Regions from separate parts of the Homo sapiens genome. Here region 1 is linked to region 2. The links come from fine-mapping of genetic effects on gene expression. A gene starts in region 2. The other region holds a variant in brackets. All regions are shown on one strand. Distances are from middle to middle. Region 1 overlaps EVC (EvC ciliary complex subunit 1). Region 2 holds the start of EVC (EvC ciliary complex subunit 1).

Region 1 (2,500 bases), 22 kb before region 2:
GCCCTGTAGACATATCTGTGTGTCTGTCCACCTGTTTCTAGCTCTCCTCTTTCTCTCATCTGCCTTCTCTCTGTAGGGTCTCATTCCTCATTCAGTAATTCAGAGAATGTGCCTTATGGAGAAATAACACTTTTTTTTAACCCCCGTCATCTTGATGCCTGAATAAACCCACCGGGGTTCTGCGGCTAAAGTGGGACTCCTCTCTCTGGCTTCCCATAGCTCAGGTCCGTGGCTGATTCAATCAGAGGCCAGGTGCATCTGGCAGAGACTAATGTTGTTTTCCCCACATCCACAGTTCTGAGTTCTTGTTCATTCAGTCAAGAGAACACGTGGCCCCATGAAAAGGTACTGAACTTCTCATCTCAGTGCCACTCCTGCAGCTTTATAACTTTGGGTAAATCCTCTGCCCTGTGCCTCAGTTTTCTCACCTGCAGAGTGGACATGATAATGACACCCGCCCCTCTGGGTTGTGCTGAGGTTTAAGTGTAATACTCCTGGGACCTCGTACATAGCAAGACTCAAGAAAATTCATGCTCATAAATATTCTTATCATTATTATCATTCCTTTAAACATATTGTTCTCTTTTAAATATCTTTTATCTCTATCTCCAGCAGGAGGTGTAGCCCGGGAGGAGGCACTCATCTTTCTGCTGAGGCCCCTACAGCTCTGGTTGAAGTCAAGGCCATGCCCCACCAACAGGCGTGAAGTGCTTTTCCATTTTGTGGCTGCATGCCTGACAGCGCCGCTTTCCCCCACCTCACAGCGGCTCTGTTTCCACTGATGTCTGCCTCTCAAGGGTCTCTGGGACTCACTGCACACAGAGTCCTTGTCTCCCAGCTCCTGTCCCCATGAAAAGGAGGGAATGCGAACATCTCCACCTACCATATGCTTTTCCTGCCTCAGTGCCGTGTCCAAATGCAGCAGGTCTTTTAAGTGAAGGCTGTAGATACACAGGTCAACGTCTACACTGCAAAATAAAATGAGAAGCGGAAAAGACTTTCAGGGTATCGGAAATGAAGAGTAAGAATATTGGCACGTCCCTCATCAGTACAAGCCACAGCACACCCTGCCTCAAACTCTCATTCTG[C/T]AGCATGCTGAGGTCCTTACGCTCACTCCAGGTTTATAAGAAGGGATCAAATGAGCTGTTTGAAACCCACTAATGGCCATAAGAGAACAGTTGGTGTCAGAGACATAGGTGCCTGGGACTTCCAAGAGAAAACCAATGGAGAGAGGGAAGGGAGAGAAATAAAAATGACGTTTCCTCCTTTGAGTATTTTCTAAAAAAAAATTTATTTACTTATCTTTTTAGAAATAGGGTTTTGCTCTGTCTCCCAGGCTGGAGTGCAGTGGTACAATCACGGCTTACTGCAGCCTCCACCTCCCGGGCTCAAGCAATCCTCCCACCTCAGCCTCCCGTGTAGCTCGGACTACAGGCATGCACCACCATACCCGGTTGATTTTGGATTTTATTTTAGAGATGGGGTCTCACTATGTTGCCTGGGCTGGTCTTAAACTCCCGAGCTCAAGCAATCCACCCACCTTGGCCTCCCAAATGTTGGGATTACAGGCATGAGCCATGGTGCCCAACCTCAAGCATTTTCATGTCTATCATCACGTGTCACCTTTCCTCGGTGCCTTAGCAGAGACATTCTCATGCCCATTTTACAGATGCAGAAACTGACTCAGGGAAGAGAGAATCAGACAAATCAAGTGACCATCATAGGGTCAACGGGGGCAGATACATGGCAGAGTGTAAAAGTCTTTGACCTTTTTTCCCTCATAGGCAAATGCATTTTAAATGATGACTCTCCCACCCAAACCGTTTCAAATCCTCTAAGTCCCAAATGCTGAAAGCAAGCCGTTCTAAGCCAGGGCTGGCCAGTCCAAGAAGGCCCCTCTTCAACGAAGTCCCTTCTGCCTGGGCCACTTTCAGGCTCAAGGTGCTGAGCCCAGTGTTTCTGCAGCAACTCTGAGCAGAGGCTGTGCCCTGGATCATCCCACCTCTTGGACTCAGCGGAATTTTGGAGCAGAGAGAGGCCTGAGGCCTGGTGTGTGAACCCGCCAGACTGAGCTTCTTAAGCCCCCACCACGTGCGGAGCCCTGCTCTGGGTTGGGTCAAATCCGGCTCCGTCACTCACGGCTGTGTGACCAGCAAGTCACGCAGCCTCTCTGTGTTTCCCTTTATTCTTTGTGAACTGGAGGAAATGACAGTACCAACTTCATAGGGGTGTTAAACGGAATTCATTCACTCACTGATTAATATTTACTGATTGCTGAACTTGTCCCAGGATCCCCCTCACTGGGCAAAATCCTCATGAGATCATCAATCCCTGTAAAGTGCTTAGCACTCTGCCCGGTACTCAGAAGTACCCACTTAATCAACTTCGCCAGTAGCTGGGAGCACGCCAGTGATTAAATGAGGCCTCCCTGTCATCTCTCCCCGGGGCTCAGGCCTGACTCCATAACCCCAGTGTTGGGCAATACAGCACAGGAAGTGAC
Region 2 (2,932 bases):
ATTGCCAGCGTCCCATCGCAGACTCCCCATGCGGTGTCATAACCGATAGTTTACTTGCAAACTTGCAATTCGTCCTTCTCCTTGAGGTTCACAGCCTCAAGGCAGGGTCTCTCCCGCTCATGAATGTCGTCCCTAGGCCAGTGACTGGCTGTAGAAGGTGCCTGAAAACTTTTACTGTGGGGTGAATGAAAAAATGAATGCCAATGTGGCAGCTGGGACTCAGGCCAGGCGACGTAACCCACACCGCAAGGATGGAAGAGGCAGAAGCAGGAATAGGCATTCAGGCGTGGGAGCCCCAGCCGTCCTTCTGTCCACCATGGCGAGCAGGGCCAGCGTCCTGTCCAAACCCTTGGTGCTGCAGATGAGGAGACCGAGGCGTGGCGCAGTTGGGCTGCTGTCAAGGATCACCCAACGGAGTGGGATGTAACAGGCACCGCAGGGGACCCCAGGCCAATGCCCTTTAGTCACGCCGCCACCTCCCTCCTGGAGCAGAAGGGGAACCCGACGCCTAAGCGGTTGCGTGCGAAGTTCCCAACCAGGCTCAAGGAGTCGCAGAGCCGGGGCTCCGGGCCCGCAGGACCCAGAAGCCACGCGCCCCGCGCTCCCCGCCCCGCCGCTGTCTGCTCGGCCGACCCACCTGGTGTCGCGTGCGCTGGCGGCCCGCGCGGCAGCCAAGCCAAAGGCCGAGGCCGAGGCCGAGCGCGGCGCCCAGCAGCACGGCGGGGGCCAGCAGGGCGGGCGCCGGCCGCAGCGCGTCCCGCCCCAGCAGCAGCCGCGCGTCGCTCTTGCAGGCCGCCCCGCCGCGGGCCATCCGGGGCGCTCAGGCTGCCGCCCCGCCGCATCCCGCCGCCTGCTGCACCGTCCCCGCCAGGGCGGCGACGCGGGACTTGGAGCCCGGGCGGGCCAGGGGCGCGGCCCGCTCCGCAGACTTTCTGGCCTGTGCAGTCTCCCGACTCCTGCTTCTCTCCCCTTCCCTGCTTCGCCGAGCCGGAGGGAGGAGCCTGGATCACCGCTCAAAACTTTCAGCCACCCCCGCCCCAGCCCTGCCCCTGCACTGAGCATGCCCAGAGACAGACGCGCCTCCCAGCCCCGGACCCTTCCGGAGGGGGGCCCGGTTTCCACCCCTTTAACTTTACTGAGGCTTAGAAGGCTCCTTTAAGTTTTTTGAGGCTTAGAATATGCTACGCATTTAGCTTAATGATCTCATTAACTTTCTCAATAACCCTCTGCGGTGGGTGCTCCGCCCATCCTCCTGATGAAGACGCTGGGATCAATGCAATTCCAACCCCCTGCCCTTGCCCCTAACCTCTACCCATCAACCTTCCCGGGAACACACCGCCCTCCACGCCTCTGAACTTGCTCACGCGAAGACTCCTGTTTTAATCTTATTTTGTCCCAGGGAAGGTCGAGACAATGGGTGGAGACACCGTTACACTCAGTCTCCACTAGGAGGATGGGTAAAGGGATCCTTACACCCAGACCCCACTGAGACGATGGGTAGAGAGACCCTTACACCTAGTCCCCACTAGGACCAAGGGTAGAGAGACCCTTACACCCACTCCCCACTGAGACAATGGATAAAGAGACCCTTACACCCGCTCCCCACTAGGACCAGGACACTGCACCATCCTTCATTTACTCAGCACTTGGAGAGAATCTGTTGTGTGTGTGTTGCAGGCTGGGGGATAGGCCAGCCACAAACCAGGCAGTGTCCAGGCTAGTGAGTATCTCACAGTTGTTTAGAGTGATAAAAAATTAAAGGAGTTCATCACTGTGTTTGCTTTAAACAAACATTTATGGGGTAGCTACTAGATGTTTGCTTTTGTCCTGGGTGCCTGGGTAAAGCACACATGCACATGCACGACTGCACACTTGCACTCAGGGGCACACACACACACACACCTACCCTGTGGAGCTTAATTCCCTGTGTGGGCCGGGCTAGGGGACACCATGGGGATCTGCTTCAGCAGAGGAGGGCTTTGTCCTTTCAGCCTAGATGTCCAGCTTGTTTCTAGTTTGTTTCATCATTTCCTCATGGCAAGATGGGAACTGTTATCCAAATTCTTCATCTTTTTTTAATAAATGAAGAAACTGACAGCTGGAGAGGAGAGGTGACTCATTTGCAATTAAGGAGTGGGGCAGAATTCTTGTCTCATTTACACCTGTGTCTGGCTTCAGGGCAAACTCTCTGCTATGTGGAGCTTCTTATATATTACCTTAGAAGCATCTCCAAGGTTCCTGGGGACATGTATGGGGGCAATAACTTGACGCTCTTGTTTTACATTTCCATGAATGCTTAGGCTTTAGTTTTTAAAATGTGGTGTTTGGGCCAGGTGTGGTTGCTCACGCCTGTAATCCCAGCACTTTGGGAGGCTCAAGTGGAGGATTGTCTGAGCCCAGGAGTTTAAGACCAGTCTTGGCAACATAGTGAGACCCTGACTCCATAAAAAATACTAAGGAGATTTTTTAAATGTAGGGTTATTTGCTTTTTACTTTATCATAAAGTTGTTGACTATTAAATTAACCTTTAAATGACTGACTGTCAAACAACTCCAACGGTCCAGCAACATGCTTGGCATTTAGCCTGTGGTCTTGTCACATGCCTGACAGCTGCCACGTACCCCCTGGTGTGGGGAACTTGGCTTATAAATTCTCAGCTTCTCGAACCCCATGGCCTTGTCCATGTTAGGTCAGGAAAGGCCTGTCCTTGGATGGTCTGGGTTATGGGGAGAGAGGCTGCCAGGGGCCAGGCTCGCTGGCCTGAGACTTTATAGACAGCCTAACAGCCTGCCCCGCAGGAAGGCTGGCGGGAGTGGAGCCCTCCCCCGTCAACAGGTGTCAGCTGTCACCCAGGACCTAGGCAGGGATGAGGAAGCACACAAAAGGCTCCACCAGTCCCCCTTTTTGTGTCTTTCTCCTCCTCCTCCTCCTG

Evidence for each region.
Region 1: its variant is fine-mapped to the expression of EVC in whole blood (TOPMed, PIP 0.91).

Annotation. Positions count from the first base shown.
Region 1 is chr4:5,731,819-5,734,318 of GRCh38, reverse strand. EVC (EvC ciliary complex subunit 1) reads right to left here. Exons shown (of 21, transcript NM_153717.3): 5 at 884-968. Among named protein-coding and RNA genes, the nearest start is that of EVC, 22 kb to the right of the region's middle. The variant C/T (reference allele first, on the strand shown) is at 1,089.
Region 2 is chr4:5,709,260-5,712,191 of GRCh38, reverse strand. It overlaps EVC (EvC ciliary complex subunit 1), which reads right to left and starts at 991. Exons shown (of 21, transcript NM_153717.3): 1 at 638-991. The coding sequence starts at 811. It also overlaps a transcript of EVC2 not described here. RefSeq lists an enhancer at 243-312 and silencers at 783-932, 983-1,032.